3 separate regions of the Homo sapiens genome follow, and all the other regions are linked to region 2. The links come from fine-mapping of genetic effects on gene expression. A gene starts in region 2. Each other region holds a variant in brackets. All regions are shown on one strand. Distances are between the middles of the regions.

Region 1 (8,180 bases), 34 kb after region 2:
CACCCATCTAAATTAATTTTTTTTTTGTAGAGATGGGGGTCTCCCTATGTTGCCCAGGGTGGTCTCAAATTCCTGGGCTCAAGCAATCCTCCTGCCTCGGCCTCCCAAAGTGCTGGGATTACAGGCACAAGCCCCCATGCCCAGCTTCCATCTTTACTTTGAGTTTCCTAAATCAAATTAAATTTGGCATTGGCTTCATCTGCCTGTCTCAGGTAATGACCAATATTCTCGTGTCCCTCCCTCCTTGAAGTATACATAAATCCTGGAAATTATGGACTCCATGAAAATTGAATGAAGAAGCATGGCCTCTGGTTTATCATTTTATGGCTTGGAGATATTCACTGGCCTCATTTTCTGTTTGAATATAAGCAGCTCTTTTGAGGGCATCTACTTCCTTTAGATCACTGGGACTTTAACTGCAGGTTCTATGGCCACTTTTCTTAGAGTTGAGGGCCCAGGCACCCATACACAACTTCAGTGGTTTTGTACCCACCAGGACAGAACTGTATTGGATCAAGACTAGTATCTCTGGACTGGCGCAGTGGCTCACACCTGTAATCCCAGCACTTTGGGAGGCAGAGGCGGGCAGATCACCTGAGGTCAGGAGTTTGAGACCAGCCTCAACATGGAGAAACCTCGTCTCTACTAAAAACACAAAATTAGCCGGGCATAGTGGCACATGCCTGTAATCCCAGCTACTCAGGAGGCTGAGGCAGGAGAATTGCTTGCACCTGGGAGGTGGAGGTTGCGGTGAGCCGAGATCGCGCCATTGCACTCCAGCCTGGGCAACAAAAGCAAAACTCTGTCTCAAAAAAAAAAAAAAAAAAAGACTAATATCTCCATTAGTCATAGACGTATATGCAATCTCATATTAGCTTCTTTTATATGGGTAAGATTTTTCTTTCAAGTTAAATTGTTTTGTAATTTATGCTTTTGTATGCCTTACTGTGCTGAACATGGTAAATCCAATAAATACTTGTCGATAGGCACAAAGAAGAGAATGCACAGTTTCTGCTTAAGGGAATTTACAACTGGCCAAGGAAATACAACCAAGAAGGGGAGGCTCAGATATGACCACAAATTAAGGAATTGTAAGATAACTAAAATGAGAATTTAAAAGGAAAGAAGTATTATAGAGGATCTAAAAAGACAAGATTGGCCGGGCGCAGTGGCTCAAACCTGTAATCCCAGAACTTTGGGAGGCCAAGGCGGGCGGATCACGAGGTCAAGAGATTGAGACCATCCTGGCCAACATGGTGAAACCCTGCCTCTAACTAAAAAAACACAAAAAAATTAGCTTGGCATGGTGGCACGCGCCTGTAGTCCCAGCTACTTGGGAGACTGAGGCAGGAGAACTGCTTGAACCTGGGAGGTGGAGGTTGCAGTGAGTCGAGACGGCGCCACTGCACTCCAGCCTGGAGACAGAGCAAGACTTCGTCTCAAAAAAAAAAAAAAGACAAGTTTATATCTTGCTGGGGTTTCAGAAAGGATACATGGAGAGGGACACATTATAGAATGCTTTTGAAGCCTTGAGCCTCTTTGAGAGAGAAAAGAAGATGTGTTTTTTACTTTCTAATTTTTTGAGATAAGTTTTTTTAAGACAAAGTCTCACTCTGTCGCCCAGGCTGGAGTGCAGTGGCGCCATCTCAGCTCACTGAAACCTCTGCCTCCCAGGTTCAAGCAATTCTCTTGCCTTAGCCTCCAGAGTAGCTGGGATTACAGGCGCCCCCCCAAGTCATGCCTGGCTAACGTTTTGTATTTTTAGTAGAGATGGTATTTGCCATGTTGGCTGGTCTCGAACTCCTGACCTCAGGTGATCTGTCCACCTCAGCCTCCCAAAGTGCTGGGATCACAGGCGTGAGCCACTGAACCCAGCTGTACTTTTTAATTTAAAACAACACTCTTGGGGGTGGATGCAGAAATCTGGACGCATTCTATTCTGTCTCCCTTTTGATCCCTCTTCATTAAGATTAGAACTTCATTCAAATTTAATTTGCAAGATATGTCATTTTATTACTTTAACATTTAATATCTATTAATGTGGCTTCAAACAGTGTAATTTAATTTCTTAACTAATAGCTACATGAGAAGCTTTCAGCCATTCTCCTCGACTTTTGTGTCAGCAGTGGAAGTCCTTGATGTAGTCACTAGTAATAAAAAGGCTGGGCTGGGAGCGGTAGCTCACGGCTGTAATCCCAGCACTTTGGGAGGCTGAGGGGGTGCGAATCACCTGAGGACAAGAGTTCAAGATCAGCCTGACCAACATGGTGAAACCCCGTCTCTACTAAATATACAAAAAAGTTAGCTGTGCGTGGTGGCACACGCCCGTAATCCCAGATACTCAGGAGGCTGAGGCAGGAGAATAGACTGAACTTGGGAGGCGGAGGTTGCAGTGAGCTGAGATTGTGCCATTGCACTCCAAACTGGGCAACAAGAGCAAAACTCTGTCTCAAAAAAAAAAAAAAAAAGGCTGACTTTTAGCCAGGCATGGTGGCAGGCACCTGTAGTCCCAGCTACTTGGGAGGCTGAGGCAGGAGAATCACTTGAACCTGGGAGGCTGAGGTTGCAGTGAGCCAAGATCGTGCCATTGCAACTGCAGCTTGAGCAACAAGAGGGAAACTCCATCTCAAAAAAAAAAAAAAATGCTGACCAGTAAACTGCAGGCACCAACCACCTGTTTCAGCACTTGTCACTGCCCCATCCTCACCTCCCAGGCCCAGAAGAATGGTATAATAAGGTCAAATTTAGCTATATAATATCACAAACTAACAAATAATACATCTGCCATTCCCCCTCCCCCTTCCCAGGTACCTTTCCAATAGGATTGACGACAAAACTGGCTGGCCTGATACAAGATACAGATGAAGGAGAACATGATGATGTAAAAAAAAGCATTAAACACAAGAAAAACATTATCTTTCATTTCATAATAAAATACTAAAAAGCAGAGAGATAAATGTTTTATTGTTAGATAGGAATTTGTATGAATATTAGTGACTGATAACTAACAAAAAATGAAATTCTAGAATCCTGTTTGCATATATTTGAAAAAGAGATGCGAGAACCACATTTGTGTGGGATCTTTCACAAGAAGCACTAACAATACGGTCATAGTTAAATTACTGTATTTCAAACAGCAGAATGCAGGTCAGGATGAGGGAGCAGGGTTAGAGCTGGAAAGAAAATTCAGTACTGAGGACAGGTAGGTAATAAGGTCAGGGACTGCATTTGTTTCTGCAGCCAGAATTTTTCTGATGATTCTTTGATGGCTGATATATATCAGATGTTAGTTTAAAAAGTGGTTTGCAGGGCCCTTCAAAAGAGTCATATTCAGCAGATGTAAGGTGGGTCTAGGAATCCGCACTCTTTTAATACACCCTCTAAGTTATTCGAATGCAAGTGATCTAGAGATTGTACCTTGAGAAACATCTAGAGCAATTGCTGCTTCAATTTTTCTATACATTTATTTATTTGATTTGAGATGGAGTTTCTCTCTTGTTGCCCAAAGTGGAGTGCAATGGCACGATCTTGGCTCACTGCAACCTCCTCCTCCCGGGTTCAAGAGATTCTCCTGCCTCAGCCTCCCTAGGAGCTGGGATTACAGGCGAGCACCACCCCATCCAGCTAATTTTGTGTTGTTAGTAGAGATGGGGTTTCACTATGTTAGTCAGGCTGGTCTCAAACTCCTGACCTCAGGTGATCCACCCACCTTGGCCTCCTAAAGTGCTGGGATTACAGGTATGAGCCACCATGCTCAGCCCAAATTTTCTATCCAAAAAGTAGAGTGTAGAAAACTTTCTAGTTGGAGAGAGTGGCTAAGGAACTTGTTCAGAAAGTTTATTTAGAATATTAGAGGTGCTAAGGGGCTCTTGAGGGAGACTGGAGGAGCCATGGGTTAAGAGATGCTTAAGAGGAGTGCTTCTTAAACCTCAAGTGCACACACATCACCAGGGATCTTGTTAAATGCATTTGCTAATTCAGTGGGACTGAGTGGGTCCTGAGAATTATGTATTTTTAACAAGCTCCCAAGTGATGATAATGCAGCTGGTCCTGGCCAGGCATGATGGCTCACACCTGTAATCCCAGCACTTTGGGAGGCTGAGGCAGGTGGATCACCTGAGGTTAGGAGTTCATGACCAGCCTGACCAATATGGTGAAACCCCATACCTACTAAAAATACAAAAATTAGCTGGGTGTGGTGGTGTGTGCCTGTAATCTCAGCTACTTGGGAGGCTGAGACAGGAGAATTGCTTGAATCTGGGAGGCGGAGGTTGCAGTGAGCCAAGATCATGCCACTGCACAGCCAAAATGACTAAATGACAGAGTGAGACTCCAACTCAAAAAAAAAAAAAGGTAATGCAGCTGATCCCAGGACCACACTTTAAATAGCAAGACTTTATACTGAAAATGGGGTATATAATGGAGAGAGATATGTTTAGACATTGTATATGAAATGGAAAACCAAAGCATAAAACACCATCAAGTTTTGAAATAAACTTAATCCAAAAGTTAAGCAAACGTGAATCTTGAAAGAGGAAATAACTGAATTAGAACCCCAGGCAGTGCAGATTGTCTAAAAGTGAATCACAAGGCTCTGACTCTCAGGTTTTC[C/T]CAGGCTCCACCCGCCCCCACGGAGCATGTTTGTTGCTTACATGAAAAGAAGGGTTATAGATAAGGTCATAGGCAAGGTCCCATCAGCTTCTATTCAAAATAGTCCATCAAAGTTTCTTAAAGAAGCTGGGTGTGGTGACGCATGTCTTTAGTCCCAGCTACTCGGGAGGCTGAGGTGGGAGAATCACTTGAGGCCAGGAAGTCAACACTGCAGTGTGCCATGATGGCGCCACTGTACTCCAGCCTGGGTGACGAGAGTGAGGCCTTGTCTCAAAAAACAAACAAACAAACAAACAAAAACAAACAAACCCAAAACAAAAACAAACATTTCTTAAACTAATTGTTTTCTCTGATTAACAAATCCACTCCCTACAAGCTAGAAAAAGCAACTTTGCAACACAGGATAATCAATTATCAAACCAAGATCTGGCTGGCGCAGTGGCTCACGCCTGTAATCCCAACACTTTGGGAGGCCGAGGCCGGCGGATCACTTGAGGTCAGGAGTTCGGGACCAGCCTGGCCAACATGGTGAAACCCTGTCTCTACTAAAAATACAAAAATTAGTTGGGTGTGGTGGCGGGCACCTGTAATCCCACCTACTCGGGAGGCTGAGGCAGGAGAATTGCTTAAGCCTGAGAGGTGGAGGCTGCAGTATGCCAAGATTGCGCCACTGCATTCCAGCCTGGGTGACAGAATAAGACTCCATCTTAAACAAACAAAAAACCCAATATCTTTTGTTTTGAGATGGAGTCTCGCTCTGTCGCCCAGGCTAGAGTGCAGTGGCACAAAACCCAATATCTTATCATAGCTTTCTCTGCTGAAAATCCCAGATGGTCCCCCTACTGTTAGGGACAAAAACCTAAATTTCTGAGCTTTTAATTCAATTTCCTCCACATTCTTCTCTGTCACTCTATTTCCAGCCCTATCTCTTGCCAATAACCAGTTTTCTCACACATTCTTAATGCAGTTCACACCCACCTACAGGGTACTTCCTACTTCTAGGCTTCTGCTCCAGTCAGTCTCTTTGCTGGAATGCCCTTTTAAAAAATATATTCTTCAAAGCCTAGCTTAAACATAATAATAATCATATGCAATAGTAATCTGTATTTACATAGTCCTTACTATTTGCTAGGCACTACATTATCTCAATGAATCCTCACCCCAACTCTGAAAGACAGGGATTATCATTTTCCATTCATTCATTCAGGAAATATTTATTGAGCCCCTAATGCGTGCCAGGCACTGCTTATGGCACAAGTCTCTTCCTTCAACAGGCTTACATTCCAGCTTTAAGAGACAAATAATAAGGCCGGGTACGGTGGCTCACACCTGTAATCCCAGCACTTTGGGAGGCTGGAGCAGGTGGATCACTTGAGGTCAGGAGTTCGAGACCAGCCTGGCCAACATGGTGAAGGCCAACATGGTGAAACCCCGTCTCTACTAAAAATACAAAAATTAACCGGGTCTGGTGGTGCATGCCTGTAATCCCAGCTACTCGGGAGGCTGAGACATGAGAATAGCTTGAACCTGAGAGGCGGAGGTTGCAGTAAACGGAGATAGCACCACTGCACTCCTGCCTGGGTGACAGAGCAAGACTCTGTCTCAAAAAAAAAAAAAAAAAAAAAAGGAAATAATAAAAAAAATAAATAAACATACAGTGTGCCAATGAAAAGTGCTGTGGAGAAAAATGAAGCAGGGTATGGGGATACTGATAAAGGGAATGGTTTGAGCTAATGGTTGGAGACAACTGACAACCATTAGCCTTGAAAATAGCTAGTGGCCAAGAAAACAGCAAGGGCAAGGAGCATGCTTGACAGGTTTGGCAAGGGTAGACGACTGAAGAGGAGGATGGTTGGGGCTGAGGTGAGAGAAGTGGGGCTAATTCACATAGAAGGGCTTTCTAGGCTAGTCTAAGAATTTTGCTTTTTTCTCCAAGTTAGATGTAAAGCCATCATGCATTTTAAAAAGTCACGGGCTAGTGCCTTGAAAAGTGATCACAAGGAGACCTGTTAGGAGGCTACTGCAAAAGCCCAGGTAAGACATGATGGACCAAGCTGCAAACAGTGGATGTGGGGAGAAAAGGTCAGATTCTGGATCTCTTTGAAGTTTCAACAGGCAGAATGTGATGACTTGCAGCTGAGAGAATGAGAGACATTCTTTACTTAGGCCAAGCAACTAAGTTTTTTGGCCTCTACAGCTGGCAGGATAGAGTTGCTATTTGTTGCTATCTTATAAAGAATTTGAGGTTTAAGGAGGTTACATAACACCCCCAAAGTCAACTGTCTAGTTCTCTGTTACAGGTTTATCTGGAAAGATTGAGCAGCAGTTCCCCTTCTCCCCATCTCCTAAGAAACTAGCCTGGGCTAGAGTTTTACCTTTCCCTTGACCTAAAGAATTAATAGGCCTTTGTTTTCCAAGAACTTTTTGCTAACGTAAAGAAAGGATGAATCGCACTGAGTCTGGGGAAGGGTTGTGGGATTTTTTTTTTTTTTTTTTTTGAGATGGAGTCTTACTCTGTCACCCAGGCTGGGGTGCAGTGGCGCAATCACGACTAACTGCAACTTCCGCCTCCCAGGTTCAAGCAATTCTCCTGCTCCAGGTTCCCGAGTCGCTGGGATTAGAGGCGCACACCACCATGCCCAGCTAATTTTTTGTATCTTTAGTAGAGATGGGGTTTCACCATATTGGCCAGGCTGGTCTCAAACTCCTGACCTCGTGATCCGAATGCCTCGGCCTCCCAAAGTGCTGGGATTACAGGCGTGAGCCACTGCACCCGGCCGGGATTTTGTTTGTTTGTTTGTTTGTTTTGAGACAGGGTCTCACTCTGTCACTCAAGCTGGCATGCAGCAGCGCAAACTCGGCTCACTACAACCTCCGCCCTACCAGGTTCAAGCCATTCTCGTGCCTCAGCCTCCAAAGTAGTTGGGATTACAGGTGTGCACCACCACGCCTGGCTAATTTTTTGTATTTTTAGTAGAGACCGGGTTTTGCCATGTTGGCCAGGCTGGTCTCAAACTCCTGACCTCAGGTGATCCACCCGCCTTGACTTCCCAAAATGCTGGGATTACAGGCATGAGCCACCACTCCCAGCCTGGGATTTTTAGGATTTCCAAATGCCTTCTTCTCCTGAAGTTTGCAACAGAAGACAGGACTCAAGCAGGGATGGCTGCAGGATGCCTGGGAGACAGGTCACTAAGCACTGAGACCCTGGAAGGAGCAGTAAGAGTGCTGGTGACAGCTTTCTGGTCAGATGAAGGTAAATCAACAGCATCACCCCGTTTCAGTGACCCAGGACCACTCGACCACCCAAACTCTAGAGGTCTTGTATACTTCACTGCAGTACAGAAAGAAATCCCAGAAATAATTCTTATCCATCTTCAGAGTGTGGGCTCTAAGCCGTATTTTATTTGAATAAATAAATTAAAAGAAGAAAAGAAATGGGACAGGGATGTTCACCATGTCTATTTATATAGAGTGTGATACTATGCATCCGTTTAGAAAGCTAGAATAGATTTATATTTATAGATGTGGAAAGATGTCCACAATGTGTTGCAAAATTAAAAGATCAG
Region 2 (8,180 bases):
TGAGAATATTTATGAATAAAAGCAGACTCACAGTAGACATGTTTAGGAGACTGCTGCCCAGACTATGCTTTGGAAGTGTCCCTCCTATTGCAGGGGTGAGCCTAAGTGACTGCTACTGCTAGCGAAACCTTGTCTCCTAACCACAAGTGAACAAAATGGGACACCTGTCCCATGCTGAGCCAATCAGATACTCCAATATTAAGCTTCAGCCTCATTCCAGAAAAAGAGTTTGGCTAAAATTAGTACCATGGAAACCCAAAGTCAAGCAGAGTAACGGGGGAGCAGAAACTGAGGCCACTGCAGCACAAACCAGCTTCAGCATGGAGAAAAGAACAGACATGCAAAGACCAAAGACAAAAAAAAACACACAGCTCCAGAGACAAAGGCCTGGGGCTTTCCAAATCCCACAGGTTCATCCTTGCTTCCCACACACTTGGATTCCAAAAGACTGCCTGGAATCCTTACAATCACTGTCCCTTTACTTAAGTTTATTTGAGGTTTCTGTTCCTAACAATCAAGTTAATCCTTGACAGATACAAAATTATATAAAGAAAAAAAGTATTAACAAAAATGCCGAATATTAATAGCAGTTGCCTCTTAGTAGAATTAAGAGTGATATTTTCTAGTGTTTATAATTTTTCTTTTTTTTTGAGACAAAGTCTTGCTGTGTCGCCAGGCTGGAGTGCAGTGGCCCGATCTTACTGCAACCTCCACCTCCCAGGTTCAAGCGATTCTCCTGCCTCACCCTCCCGAGTAGCTGGGACTACAGGTGTATGCCACTGCGCCCAGCTGATTTTTGTATTTTTAGTAGAGACGGGGTTTCACCGTGTTGGCCAGGGTGGTCTCGATCTCTTGACCTCGTGATCTGCCCGCCTCGGCCTCCCAAAGTGCTGGAATTACAGGCATGAGCCGCCATGCCCGGCCTAGTGTTTATGATTTCTTTACTTGCCAAGTTTTCAGCAATGAGTATGTTATTATTCACTCAGAAAAAAAAAAAAAACTTGAATAAATAAGGTAATTCTGTATTCGGATAATTAAGGCTTTACTAAATAATTGGTAATTTCAAAGCTAAAAGTGAGGTACAGTATATCAAACCCAGGAGGTTTCAAACCTTGTTCCAGAGGACACTTTGATTCTGTGGTAATGCCTCCAGAGCCACTTCAGGGGAAAAGAAGCTCAGCACACCCCCTGCAGTCAACACCTTGTTCAGTTTCTTCCTAGCTCAAAGACCTCCTTAACCCCCTTCACTTAGGACAGGGCCTTAAAAGACATTTTATGCAAGGTGAACCACTCCCCCTTCTACTCAGGGCTTTAGCCAATTGTATCAGAGTAGGAACCTGCCCCAAACCAGGCCAGATTATCTTCCTCTGGCTTTGGAAGTGAGTTAAAGATTCACTCTTTTTCACTGAAGTGGCTAAAAACGTTAGCTTCTCACCTTAAAGATCAGAGAAGGGCTGGGCATGGTGGCTCAACACCTATAATCCCAGCACTTTGGAAGACAGAGGCAGCAGGACAGTTTGAGGCTACAAGTTTGAGACCAGCCTGGGCAACATAGCAAGACCCTGTCCCCACAAAAAAAATTAAAAATAGCCGGGTGTAGTGGTGCATGTCTGTATTCATAGATACTCAGGAGGATCCCTCGAGTTTAGGAGTTCGAGGTTGTAGTGAGTTATGATCATGCCACTGCACTCCAATCTGAGGCAGACCATGTCTCTAAGGAAAAAAAAAAAAAAAAGTCAGGTGCGGTGGCTCACGCCTGTAATCCCAGCACTTTGGGAGGCTGAGGCAGGTGTATCACTTGAGGTCAGGAGTTCAAGACCAGCCTGGCCAACATGGTGAAACCCTGTCTCTACTAAAAAAAACAAAAAAACAAAAAAAACAAAATTAGCTGGGCAGGCCAGGCGCGGTGGCTCATGCCTGTAATCCCAGCACTTTGGGAGGCTGAGGTGGGCAGATCACACTGTCAGGAGATCGAGACCATCCTGGCTAACACGGTGAAACCCCGTCTCTATTAAAAATACAAAAAATTAGCCGGGCGTGGTGCGGGTGCCTGTAGTCCCAGCAACTTGGGAGGCTGAGGCAGGAGAATGGCGTGAACCTGGGAGGCGGAGCTTGCAGGGAGGCGGAGCTTGCAGGGAGACGAGATTGCCCCACTGCACTCCAGCCTGGGCAACAGAGCAAGACTCTCTCTCTCAAAAAACAAAAATTAGCTGGGCATGGTGACATGCACCTGTAGTCCCAGCTACTTGGCAGGCTGAGGCAGGAGAATCACTTGAACCTGGGAGGTGGAGGTTGCAGTGAGCCGAAATTACACCACTGCACTCCAGCCTGGCTGACAAAGTTAGACTCTGTCTTTAAAAAAAAAAAAAAAAATCAGAGAAGGGGAAGAAGGCAGTTTGCAGGGAACATGAAATATAAACAAGATCTGCACACAAAAAAAGAGCAAAACCAAGAGGTTTCCCTGGTTCTGAACTCTAGCCATTTTCTGAAGCCCTACTAGGTTTATGTCTTAAATAGCTGGAAACCACATATATGGAACCACATACATGATTTCATCTTACTCAGCCTTTTCCTAGTGGAAAATTCACAATGTTCATATTTTTAAAAGATCCAGGAAGCAAAAGGTTAAGAACTCCTGACCTAGAAAAAACTCTATACAGTGGCATACACTATGGAAAATGAAATTCAAAATAAGTCCTTTAATAATTCACATTTTTGCAGCATCTCAAATATATTTTCTGTTTATTTGGTCAAAAAACATATTCACGTTATAAAGAATGTCCCAAATAATGAGAATCCAAAAGAATCTCCTTTAGCTATTTAAAAACACAATCAACTACAACAACCCATTCTTATGCTTTCTGGTTAAATTGTATCTTGCTGTACATATAACTTCAGGTTAACATGGCAAGGTGAATAATAAATGGCTTATAAATCTCTTACTCAAAATCTTTGGGAACTGTTTTTCTTACTTTAATAAGATAAAGAATTGCTCACATATTCACCTATTCTATCAAAAGTATTTATAGAATGCCACTAGGTGCCAGGCACTGCATTTGGCCTTATCAGCTACTATGATTAATTCTTGGTTCTCCTCTAAATTATTGCCTCAATCTACAAATACAGATTAGAGCACATCCTATTTGTATGCTCCACAACTAACATAATGCCTGGTTCTTAGTGGAAACTTAATGTCGCTGAACTGTGTTATAATAAAACATCCAGAAGGCAGGCCGAATACGAAAGCAGTAGCTTCGCATTAAGAAAACTACCCCTAGCCAATTTTCTTAGTCAACCAGGCCACTACAGTATTAATGAAATCGAAATCTGTCACCAATACCAAAAAAAAAAAAAAAAAAAAAAAACCAAAACCAAAACGTCTAAACAAACGCCCTTCTGATAACAATTTCCTTGGACACATGAAAGCAAGCAATTCCTTATGCTAAAAAGACCTTCAACAACGTCAAGAATAGATGTTTCTAAAGCCTTTCGGTAAGGGGCCATACATAAGAATGGAAAAGTTGACTGATTGACAAGCAAATGATGTTCCCTATATTCATCTTGACAGTAGTTTCACACCAACTGTTCCAGAGGCAACATAAAAAAAAATAACAGAAATGAGGCCGGGCACGGTGGCTCACGCATGTAATCCCACCACTTTGGAAGGCCTAGGCGGGCAGACCACCTGAGTCGGGAGTTCGAGACCAGCCTTACCAAAATGGAGAAACCCCGTCTCTATTAAAAATACAAAATTAGCCGGGCATGGTCGCATGCCTGTAACCCCAGCTACTCGGGAGGCTGAGGCAGGAGAATTGCCTGAATCCGGGAGGCAGAGGTTGCGGTGAGCCAAGATCGCGCCATTGCACTCCAGCCTGAGCAACAAGAGCAAAAACTCCGTCTCAAAAAAAAAAAAAAAAAAAAACAGAAATGAGGCACAAAAGGAGGAAAGGGAGAAAATGCGTGCTGAGATAAGCATTTCGACTCAGGCTGAGGGAAACGCTCAAACAGTTACTGCAAATGACTAAAACAATCTGAGCCTTAAAACTTGGTTGTGCAAGTTCGGCTACTAGAGTTCATCATCTGTTATGGGCATTGTTCTTGAAAAAGTACCAAACAAACATCCTGCCTGCGGGCTTCTCCGGGTGGGTGCTACTAACCCTTTTAGTTAATTCTGTGACTCTGCGTTTAAAAGAAATAAAGAAAGAACAGGATGAACATCAACAAGTATTTAGGAGGGGCCTAGAGAGAACTTTTCACCCCTAGCCGCAGCCCAAGATCCTCCCACGGGAAGTGCCGTAGGACCGCAGCCCGAAAGAGCGCGGGAGGGGAGACTGGCCACGCCCGGATGCGCCGCGGACAGGGTCCTGGCCGGTCAGCCCGCGGGCCGCTGGCTTTGCTGCAGCCGCCCCGGCGCAGGGGAGGAGCGCCGAGAAAGGGCGGGGCCGGGCCTCACCTCCACGGCCTGGCCCAGCTCCAGGTCGAAGCCCACCACACACACGCAGTGCAGCCAGGCGGAGAAGCTGTCCCAGCGCAGCAGGCCCCGGCCACGGCCATCGTCCTCTTCATCGTCCTCTGGCGCGCCTCCCGCCGCCACAAGGGCCGGCGCCTCGCGGCCCTCGGCCCCTGCCACCGCTTCGTCCAACGGCCTTCGAGAGCCGGGCCCCAAGCCCGCAGGGCCCCTCAAAGCCATCGGCCGCCCCCTGACCGTTCGCGCCGCCTCCACAGCGGACCGCGCCGCAGAGCGCGCTTGCCTCCGCGCAGGCGCAGACGCTGCTGTCGCAGCCGCTGGGGACCCACTCAGTCCGGGCGGGGCTGCGGGTCACGTGACCCTGGGAGCGGACGTGGGGACGTCACGCTGCCGCTTGTCTCGGATTGTGAAGCCGGTCCTGGCTTCCTTGTCTAAAAGCTCTTTGGGACTGAAATGGCTGTTTATGAATCCTTGTCAACCTCGTTCGCAGTCAACGACCAGGGAATAAATTATTCGTGGAATGACACAGTTCATAATTATTATAAGGTATTATTAAATTATGAAAGCGTAGGCCGGGCGCGGTGGTTCACACCTGTAATCACAGCATTTTGGGAGGCCGATGCGGGCGGATCATCAGGTCAGGAGTTCGAGACCAGCCTGACCAACATGGTGAAACCCCGTCTCTACTAAAAATACGAAAAAATTAGCCAGGCGTGGTGGAGCGCGCCTGTGATCCCAGCTACTCAGGAGGCTGAGGCAGGAGAATCGCTTGAACCCAGGAGGTTACAGTTAGCTGAGATTGCGCCACTGTATTCTGTCTACCCTGGGCGACAGAGCGAGATTCCGTCTCAAAAAAATAAAAATAAAATATATGAACGCATAATGGTGACGGTGGCTAACATTGAACGCTTACTTTGTGCCAGTTGATATGCCAAGTACAAGTGCGAATACTTACAAATATTACCTTATTGAATCTTCACATAATCGCAAATAAGTAGACTATTTATTTCTTTTTACAGATAAGGAAATGGAGGTCCTGGAGGTTACATGACTAGCCCAACAAGTATGACAACTCCGATATCGGCTTGCGGTTCACTCATTCAGTTTGCTGATTCAGAGATCTGTGCATTCACTCACCTGTTCCTTCTCCAGCAAGGCCTCCCCACCCTACCACCTCCTCCTTTCTTAGTTTGGCTGTCTGTGACTCACTCAACACACATCCCCAGACCTTTCTGGAACTCCAGGTTGGGCAGATTGGCCTCCACAGCAACCTGTGGATCTCTGAACACTGGGGCAAGGGCCTGGTCTCAAGCAGCTTCGTATTCTGAGATCAGTTTTTACTGAGTATTGGACCAGCCAGGATACTAACTAGTATTTATTCAGCACCTACTATGTTGAGTATAAATAGCATAGTAAAAGTAGGAAACACACAATAATACCTCAACAGAAAAATGAGTAAACCAGCGAGGTGTCACGCCTGTAGTCCCAGGTTCTTGGGAAGCTGAGGCCGGCTAAGTTCAAGGAGGATCGCTTGAGCAGGAGTTCCAGGCTGCAGCGCGCTATGATCGCGCCTGCGAACAGCCATTGCACTCCAGCCTGGGCAACAGAGCGCGACTGTGTCTCTAAAAAACAACGCAAAACAAAAAACACGGCAGAACTTAAGCATTTTGCTGCACTGCCCAGTGAAATCCATTCCATTTGACAAATACTGCCCTCTTAACATTCTTAGAATTTTTTTTTGGAGCAAGTGTTAGCGTCCCTGTTTTCAAGGAGGTGGTCAAGTATGCACAGACATCAGTAGTGACGTTTGCTGGAGACTTCCTTTAGACAAAAATGAACTTAGGGACAGCACTTAAGTTAGAGGCCAAGTCTTTGGCCAAAGTAGCCTGCCATCCTACTCCAGAGAACTGCTGTGGTTAAAAGAGGAAAAACTGTATTCTGCGATCAAGTAAGGCTCTAAACCCAGTATTAGGAAAGAACAGTAGCCTTTTGTATTAGAAAGAACACTGGCGTGGAAGTCAAAAGTTCTGGATTCTAGTGCCAGCTAGAATCTACCACGATCGTGGTAGGCAAGCTGCTCCAAAACCCAGTTTCTGGTAAATGAGAGTGATGATTACTAACTCACCTCACTGACTGTTGGGAAAAGCTAAGCTATCCTAATGTACACATTTTACCAGATGCTACTTCATTATTAATTATTAATGATCTCAAAACACCAGTTGTGGCCAAGCACAGTGGGTCACACCTGTAATCCCAGCACGTTGGGAGGCTGAGGCGGTAGAATCACGTGAGTCCAGGAGTTTGAGACCAGCCTGGGCAACATAGGGAGGCCCCGTCTCTTAAAAAAAAATTAAAAATTAGCTGGGCATGGTGGCACACACCTATAATTCCAGCTACTTGAGAGGCTGAGATAGGAGAATCACTGGAACCCAGAAGGTCAAGGCTGCAATGAGCCATCACTGTGCTACTCTACTCCAGCCTGGGCAACACAGCAAGACCCTGTGTCAAAAACCAGCACCAAAAAAGAACATAAGTTGTTCCACAGGGCTGGTTCTTCGACACATAGACACAAACTGCGATTCTGTGAAGTGTTGCTTTATAATATTGGGTTAAGGAGAAGGTCAAGGCTGCAGTGAGCCATCACTGTGCCACTCTACTCCAGCCTGGGCAACACAGCAAGACCCTGTGTCAAAAACCAGCACCAAAAAAGAACATAAGTTGTTCCACAGGGCTGGTTCTTCGACGCATAGACACAAACTGCGATTCTGTGAAGTGTTGCTTTATAATATTGGGTTAAGGATGATCTTGTCAAAATACAGTACCCTGAAAACAACATATTAGGAGAGCCAGAAGTTTCCAAAGAAAGAAAGCACACCAAAGCTCTAGAGAATTTTGAAAGTAAAAAACTTGTTTGGGGAGAAAAAAAACAAAAACAGAAAAAAGCATTACTTAAATCTTTATACACAGAAACAGAATAACCACTAGGGTAAACAAAGCAGCTATGGCTTTATTTCCCTCTACCTTCGTAACTTTGACATTCTGCCTTACAGTCTATTTTCACACAGTTTCTGTTGTTAATGGGAGCTGAGGAACAAGGTACTGACACCTTCTTATGGTTCATCAAAAGAACCTTTGACTCTGAAAGGATCTTGGATAGGATCATCTCTCCAAACTTCCTATTCATGGATCTTCTGACATTCAGTTAGCCAGCCTCTTTTCTAACACTCTCTATTAAAGTTAAGTCACTAGCCTGTGATCCCAGCACTTTGGGAGGCCAAGGCCGGTGGATCACCTGAGGTCAGGAGTTCCAGACCAGCCTGGCCATCATGGTGAAATCCTGTCTCTAGTGAAAATACAAAAATTAGCCAGGTGTGGTGGTGCACACCTGTAATCCCAGCTACTTGGGAGGCTGAGGTGGGAGGATCCTCTGATCTGGGGAGGCAGAGGTGACAGTGAGCTGAGATCACACCACTGCACTCCAGCCTGTGCGACAGAGGGAGACTCCGTCTCAATGAATAAATAAATAAATAGCCGGGCGTGGTGGCTCACGCCTGTAATCTCAGCACTTTGGGAGGCTGAGGCAGGTGGATCACTTGAGGTCAGGAGCTTGAAACCAGCCTGGCCAACGTGGTGAGACCCTGTCTCTACTAAAAATACAAAAAATTAGCCAGGTGTGTTGGTGTGCTCCCGTAATGCCAGCTACTTGGGAGGC
Region 3 (8,180 bases), 260 kb after region 2:
CCTGTCTGTACAAAAAAATTTAAAATGAGCTGGGTGTGGTGGCACATGCCTGTAGTCCCAGCTACTTGGACGGCTGAGGCAGGAGAATCACTTGAGCCCGGGAGGTTGAGGCTGCAGTGAGCCATGGTCACACTACTGCACTCCAGCCTGGGCAACAGGAGACCCTGTCTCAAAAAAAAAGTTTGAACAACCAAGTTATATCGATGGTTTGCATTGACTCGGAATTAAATGACTTCTCCAGAAAGCAGCCTGAGAAACTGGAAGGGGATGAGACATTGGAGGCGGGCCTCGAAGGACTGGAAAGATTTGGGCTTATTGGGGATATAACAGAAAGGCATTGCAAGGGGAAGGTGGGAACATGTCAGGTGTGAATGAGTGGTTTCATGCTGGCTGGAGCTAGGCCTGGTGGAAGAGCAGCATTTGGAAAGCACATCAGGAAGAGGACATTTCAGGCAAAAGAAATGGTTGAGGCAAGAGGGAGCTCGCTGTGTGTGTGCCTGCATTGTACAAAAACTGCCCCCAGTGCAGGGGAGGATTCACACTTTTGGTTGTGATGAGCCAGCTGGCTGGCTTAAGCAGAAAGAGAACTTATCATGAGGCTACAGTGCAGGGTATTGCTGTATCTGCCTCTCTGTCTTCATCCCAGTCTACATCAGAAATTCCTCTCCCTGCTCTCAGCCCCTGGAGGATTTCTTCTGTGACCCTTCTCTTACCCTGAGCATTTTCTACCCCATTTGGGGCATTTTCTACCCCAAATGACCCAGTTGCCTGGTGTCATTTCTCTCTCCTATTAAACTATAAACCCCTAACAGCAGGGCTGTGCCTTACTTGCCTGTGCCACCTTCCAGCCCCCCACTGCTCTGGAAAGTGTGGCCTGCAGGCTTTCAGATTTTCTCCATGTTGACCCTGCCTTGGCCTTCCCATGGGGAGGTACTCAAGTTTCCTTTTCTGTGTTATCTCCTACAGTCCCTTGCAAAGATTCAGATCTCTGGCTCCAGGCATTTATTGCATTTTTCTGATCAAAGCTCTCTTCCGAGCAGGATATTTTCCATACCGGAAGCTTAAGAGAGTCCACAGTGAACCATGGGAAGAATGGGGTGATCGTAATTTTCTCAAGTTCTTGCATTGATTTAACACAAGAAAAGGACTTGGATCCTTTGCTCAGCGTCTCCTCTGAGCACTTTAGTTAATTCGGCATACATATACTTTTTTTTTTTTTTGAAACTTTTTTTTTTGGAAACTTTTTACTTTGATATGATTTTAAATTTGCAGAAGAGTTGCAAGAATAGCACAAGGAACTCACATTTGCCCTTCACCCAGATTTTCCAGTTTACACCTCGCCTCATTTGCTTTCTCTCTGTGTGTGTATACACACACACACACACACACACACACAGGTGCGTATTTTTTTTCTGAACTGTTTGAGAATGTCATTCATTTTGTTCCTTTGCCCCTACACACTTTAGTGTGTATTTCCGTGAAAGAAGGATATTCTCTTTACTTTGTACCAGGAGTGCTGGTTTCTTGCCCTAATATAGTGTTTACTGGCAACTGGAGGGTTGGGGGGACAAGGATCTTATGGATCTGAAGGAATTAGTCAAGAAGTTGTCACAGCATCTCTTTCCTCCTAACTAGATCCTGCAGGGACAGAAACCCACTCTGAGAAGTATGAGGCTGGGTCATCTAAGATAAGTCTGCCTGTTCTTTCTGGATGAAAATGTGATTGTTGTCACAGGTCCAAAGCCAAACACATTTTGGGAAAGGTGGCATCAATTAACCCAGCCAGCCTCAGACCTTGAGACATTTTTACGGTCTGTGCAACACAAGAATCGAGAAGGAAAAGACGTCGTACCACTGCACTTGCAGAGAAGCTTTGTTTTCCATCTCAGCCCTTGCTGCCTGTGCTAACAGTCGCAATCCTAACATCCTACCTGGACATCATCTTCCTGCCATCATCATCTGAGCCTGGGGTCCCCCCAACCTTCCTGCTCTTAACCAAGTTCCGAGAGATTCTGGGATTCAGGGGCTCCCAAAACAGCTGTGAGCAACCTTCCTCAATTGAGTCCCCACTCTTTTGGTTATGCCTAGTGGATAGATGGACAAGTGGAACAACTTTTTTTTCCTAATATAAAATTAATACATGCTTCTTGGGGAAAAAACATAAGTATAGAAAAATATGAAGAAGGGATACAGATCACCTGTAAACTTACTATAGTTCTGGTATCCACCCTTTCAGATTCCATCAGGAATGAACATTGTGTGATGGCTAAGAGCCCATACTCGGGTCATCAGGACTAGACACAGTTCTGGCTGTGCCATTACTAACTGAAGTAAGATAACTAACTCCTTTGAGATCCAGTTTCCTCTTCAATAAAACAAGATAAGGCTGGGCACAGTGGCTCACACCTGTAATCCCAGCACTCTGGGAGGCCGAGGCAGGCGGATCACTTGGGGTCAGGAGTTTGAGACCAGCCTGGCCAACATGGTGAAATTCTATCTCTACCAAAAAATACAAAAATTTGCCAGGCAGCTGAGTGCGGTGGCTCACGCCTGTAATCCCAGCACTTTGGGAGGCTAAGGTAGGTGGATCACCTGAAGTCAGGAGTTCAAGACCAGCCTGGCCAACATGGTGAAATCTCGTCTTTACTAAAAATACAAAAATTAGCCGGACATGGTGCATGCCTATAATCCCAGCTACTCGAGAGGCTGAGGCAGGAGAATCACTTGAACCCAGGAGGCGGAGCTTGCAGTGTATCGAGATCGCGCCACTGCACTCCAGCCTGGGTGACAGAGCAAGACTCTGGCTCAAAAAAATTTAAAAAGTAAAAAGAAAAAAAAAGCCAGGCGTGGTGGCAGGCACCTGTCATCCCAGCTACTCAGAAGGCTGAGGCAGGAGAATCGCTTGAACCCAGGAAGCAGAGGTTACAGTGAGCCAAGATTGCACCACTCCACTCCAGCCTAGGCAACAGAGTGAGACTCTGTGTTAAAAAATAAAAAATAGGCTGAGTGTGGTGGCTCATGCCTGTAATCCCAGGACTTTGGGAGGCCGAGGCGGGCGTATCATGAAGTCAGGAGATCGAGACCATCCTGGCTAACATGGTGAAACCCCATCTCTACTAAAAATGCAAAAATTAGCCAGGCGTGGTGGTGGGTGCCTATATTCCCAGCCACCCTGGAGGCTGAGGCAGGAGAATCACTTGAACCCAGGAGGCAGAGGTTGCAGTGATCCGAGATTGCGCCATTGCACTCCAGCCTGGGCAACAGAGTAAGACTCCCTCTAAAATAAATAAATAAATAAATAAATAAATATGAGATAATAATAGTACCTGGGCTGGGTGCGTTGGCTCATGCCTGTAATATCAGCACTTTGGCAGGCTGAGGTGGGTGGATCACGAGGTCAAGAGTTCAAGACCAGGCTGACCAACATGGTGAAACGCCGTCTCTAATAAAAATACAAAAATTAGCCGGGCGTGGTGGCAGGAGCCTGTAATCCAGCTACTCAGGAGGCTGAGACAGGAAAATCGCTTGAACCCGGGAGGTGGAGGTTGCAGTGAGCTGAGATTATGCCATCGCACTCCAACCTAAGCAACAGAGCGAGACTCCATCTAAAAATAATAATAATAATAGTACCTGCTTAAATAAGCTAATGCATGTAAAGGGTTTAGTCAATGCTTACATGAAGCAATCTCAAACAAATATTAGTTCTAGGTGATGAAAAAGGACTCCCGCCATACCACTGTATAGCAGCCTGCTGTTTTCTCTCAACAGTAATTGATTCATTCAATAATATTTTTTGAGCACCCGTTGCATGCCAAACATAGTGCTAAGTCCTAACACTTAAACAAACAAAATCCTTGCCCTTATGGAACTTACATTTCTAGTGGAGAAAGAGACAGATAACATGCTTGTATATGTTATAAAATATGTCACAGGGCCGGGCACAGTGGCTCACACGTGTAATCCCAGCACTTTGGAAGGCCGAGGTGGGTGGATCACTTGAGGTCAAGAGTTCAAGACCAGCCTGGACAACATGGCAAAACCCCATCTCTGCTAAAAATACAAAAATTAGCCAGGCGTGGTGCATGCCTGTAGTCCCAGCTACTCGGGAGGCTGAGTCAGGAAAATCACTTGAACCTGGGAGGCAGAGGTTGCAGTGAGCCAAGACTGCACCACAGTACTCCAGCCTGGGTGACAGAGCAAGACTCCATCTCAAAATAAATTAATTAATTAAATATGTCATAGGTTAATAAGTGCTCTGGTGGGGGGAGATTCAGCATGTGTGGTGGATAGGGACCA[C/T]CATCAGCGGGTTGCTATTTTATATAAAGTAGTCAAAGAAGACCTCTTTGAAAAGATGGCGTTTGAGAAGTCTGAAGGAAATGAGGGAACTATAAAATAAATATCTGGGGGAAGAACATATCTGGCAGTGGGAACAGCATGTGCAAGGGCCCCGAGACCACAGCGTGCTTGGCATATTTGAGGATGGTCAAGGAGGCCCTTGTGGCCAGCAAAGAGAGGAAGAAAGAGAACCGGAGGAGCAGAGGTCAGGGAGGTAGTGGGGACCCAATTGTGTAGGACCTTGTAGGTCATTCTGAGGATTGTAGCTATTCCTCTGAGTGAGATGGGGACCTAGGGGAGGGATGGAGGAGAGGAATGATACAATTTGACCCTCATTCGATCTCAGTACTTGTATATTGTGGTTAAAGTGGAAAGCCGCACAGTTCCTTGGACTCTATTAACCAGCATTCCCCAGCCCTGTGGGCCCCTCCCACCAGGAGTCCACAGCCTGCCTGACACGATGCAGCAACTCCCCGTAACCCCTTGCTGCCCACCACCATACCGTTTTTCTAGGTGGGAATGACATCCAGGCATACCCAGATGCTTCCAGGCTAGACCGTATTGTGCCCAGCCTTACTGTTCGCATCTCACTGGCCATGACGGCTAATAGCCACCATCGATTAAGGCCTTGTCATAAGCCAGGCCCCTCACCCCCAGAGCTCCTTTAATCCTCACAGCCACCCTGCTAGGCAGCCACTGTCATTCTCCCTTTTGCAGCTGCTACAACGATTGATTAACTTGTGCAAGGTCCTGAAGCTGGCAGGCAGGGAGGCCAGGACTTCTACCCATCCGTCAGACTCCTAAGGATGGGGACAGTGATGAACAAAGCACAGCATCCACAGTGCCTGGCACACCACAGTCACCCAGACAGCCAGATAGAAGGCTGCATGAATCGGCGCTCTTCATCCCTCCCTAAGCTCTCCCTCTGTTGAGAAAATGTCTGAGAAAGCATTCCGCACACTATAAAGCATTACACAAATATGAGCATGGCTGTGAAGATGATTAGGAGTCCGAAACCTCAGGTTCGGGTTGGGCTCCTGATTTTTCTGATGGCCACCTCCTCCTAGTCATTGGCACGTTAACCTCAAACACCTGAGCGCCACCAAACCTCAGCATATCCCTAGCTTCTCCTTTGCTTTGCCTGAAACAAAGCAAGTCTTTTATAAGCAAGGGAGAGGGCCTGTGGTGGCCTTGCTTTTGCGAACGTGCTTTCACCTCCTTCCAGTTCATTGCTTTCATACAAAATTCCAGACGCACAGCGCAGGCAGACAGAAGCCTCATTCATAGCCAGAGGTCCCTCAGGCTGGGGTTTCCACGCCTCCTTCCCCTTCCCCCTCATCTCAGTCTCCTGCTGAAGTTGCGATCCACATGAAGCCACAGAGGTAGACTCAGGGCAAAGAAGAGTTTTTAATGTTGCTGATGGGGGTGAGGAGAGGGTGGCCCTCGGAAGGCCACCACATGGCATGGTGGAAAGAGCCCTGGATTTGCTTGACAATAGACTACTGCATTCCAGATTGGTTCCACCGATTGGTAGTCAAATGAACTTGGACAAGTCATTGACCCTGTCTTCTTGGAAAGACGTGGATCTCAGAATCCTTCACAACGCTTTGCTCCTGATAGCTAGTACCTGTTCAGCAGAGTCGGCACAAGCTCACACAGCCCTTGACCTCCTGTGGGCCAAGTGAACGCCTTCTTCCTGGTTTGGTTAAGTTGGCATAGAGCTGAGCATGGTGCTGCTGGTGGTTCTACTAAATTGTATGATGGTTTAAAAAAAAAAAAAAAAAACTGTCCTTGAGGCTGGGTGTGGTAGCTTACGCCTGTAATCCCAGCACTTTGTGAGGCCAAGGTGGGAGGCCAGGAGTTGGAGACCAGCCTGGGCAAGATAGTGAAACCTCTACAAAAAATAAAAAACTTAGCCAGGCATGGTGGTGCACGCCTATAGTCCCAGCTTCTCTGGAGGCTGAGAGGCAAGAGGATCACTTAAGCCCGGGAATCTCAGGCTGCAGTGAGCAGTGATCGAACCACTGCACCCCAGCCTGGGTGACAGAGTGAGCCCATCTCAAAAACAAGAAACAAAACCAGTTCTTGAGCAAGACATACCTTTCTAATTTCCCAGTACTTTCCAGCTTTCCAAACCCTTCAGGCCCCACACCACCCTGATTTTTGTCACCTGCAAATAATAAAACTACAAACTGCACTGCACGTACACTTTTGTAAAGGCTTGAATCATTGACTTCCTCAGCCCCACACCTTCTGGTCAGCACAGGGCACTGCACTGCCACTCCAGACAGGCCTGGGCAGTGAGGAAAGGTGCCAGCCACGTGGGCTGGGGGTGGGGAAAGTGACTAATCATGAAATCCTAATTTATAATGTGTTGCTATCCTTAGTTGAGCATTAATTTGGCTCTCAGAAATAGGAGAAGGTGTGGGTGACTGGTCTGAGGAGAGTTTCTGGGCAATTAGAACAAAAACAGAAGCATGCTCTTGCACACAAAGTGGACTTTCTCTAGGGTGGTGGTATTCTCTGGAGAGCTGAACTCAGGGAGTCTTTATTATGTATACTTCTGTGTGTCTAAACTTTATACGGTGCTGGGTGCCGTGGCTCACGCCTGTAATCCCCACTTTGGGAGGCTGAGGCAGGAGGATCAGTTGAGCTCAGGAGTTTAAGATCTGCCTGGACAACACAGGCCTCGTCTCTACAAAAAAAAAATTTTTTTTAATTAACTGGGCATGGTGATGTGCACCTGTGGCCCCAGCTACTCAGGAGGCTGAGGCGAGAGGATTGCTTGAGCTGGGGAAGTTGAGATTTCAGTGACCTGTGATCAGGCCACTACACTCCAGCCTGGGCAACAGAGGGAGACCTTGTCTCAAAAATAAAATAATAATAATAATTAGAAAAACTTTACACAATGAACATATATCCCTTTTAGACCACATTTCCTGAGTCTAAGATGCCATTGATTGAAAGACAATTATTTTCTGTACTCCCCTGAAAGCAAACTGCTACAATGTGTCATCTATTAGACACATCTGCATTTTTGAGATGTTGAAATGTGAAAAAAATGTGCGTCTTCGAATTGACAGAATGAAGTAACTTTTTAAATTAAAAGATATTTTCAGCTGAGCATAGTGGCTCACGCCTGTAATCCCAGCACTTTGGGAGGCTGAGGCGGGTGGATCACCTGAGGTCAGGAATTCGAGACCAGCCTGGCCAACATGGTGAAACTTCGTCTCTACTAAAAATACAAAAATTAGCTGGTTGTGGTGGTGGGCACCTGTAATCCCAGCTACTCAGGAGGCTGAGGCAGGAGAATCGCTTGAACCTGGAGGTGGAGATTGTATTGTGGTGAACAGAGTGAGACAGAGGAAAAAAAAAAAAGATATTTTCCACTTTTGGAAAAAAATTATTTAAATTGCTTTTGCATTCCACTCTCCTGCTCAGAATGATTTCCTCAAAAAAGCCAAGGGAGTCACATTTGAAGATGAGGAAATTTTTTTTTAATGTTTATGTGCCAGTTTCTTGCTAGACCCTGTGCTTTCTCATCCCTGACCCCATGGAGGCCTCATGAGAATGATAAGCCCAAATAAAATTACCACTTATGGAAAAGGAGTAATTTTGCAAGGAAGGAAACTGAAGGTCAGATTGGTGTTCCTGATCATGCAGTTCAGTAAGTGAAGGAGAGGAGGTTCAAACTCAGCTGCTGAGCCCCCGCTCCCCTCTTCTCACCACATGCCTCAGTTCTAAAGCTGTCCTGAGAAAGGAGCCAGGTTGGAACCTAAGCCTCCTCCCAGAAGCCTGGGGAATCAAAGGGCAAAAGGGCTGAGGCCCGGGCTCTGAGGCCCACC

What was found. PIP is the estimated chance that this variant, and not a neighbour inherited with it, causes the effect.
Region 1: its variant is the best candidate, but not a certain one, in a credible set for the expression of DENND6A in whole blood (INTERVAL, PIP 0.84).
Region 3: its variant is the best candidate, but not a certain one, in a credible set for the expression of DENND6A in whole blood (TOPMed, PIP 0.56).

The regions. Positions count from the first base shown.
Region 1 is chr3:57,722,684-57,730,863 of GRCh38, forward strand. No RefSeq gene overlaps it. Among named protein-coding and RNA genes, the nearest start is that of SLMAP, 30 kb to the right of the region's middle. The variant C/T (reference allele first, on the strand shown) is at 4,612.
Region 2 is chr3:57,688,329-57,696,508 of GRCh38, forward strand. It overlaps DENND6A (DENN domain containing 6A), which reads right to left and starts at 4,749. Exons shown (of 20, transcript NM_152678.3): 1 at 4,454-4,749. The coding sequence starts at 4,690. It overlaps DENND6A-DT (DENND6A divergent transcript), which reads left to right and starts at 4,877. Exons shown (of 2, transcript NR_135550.1): 1 at 4,877-5,014; 2 at 5,488-8,180. RefSeq lists an enhancer at 4,077-4,577 and silencers at 4,299-4,538, 4,649-4,748.
Region 3 is chr3:57,943,358-57,951,537 of GRCh38, forward strand. No RefSeq gene overlaps it. Among named protein-coding and RNA genes, the nearest start is that of FLNB, 61 kb to the right of the region's middle. The variant C/T (reference allele first, on the strand shown) is at 4,297.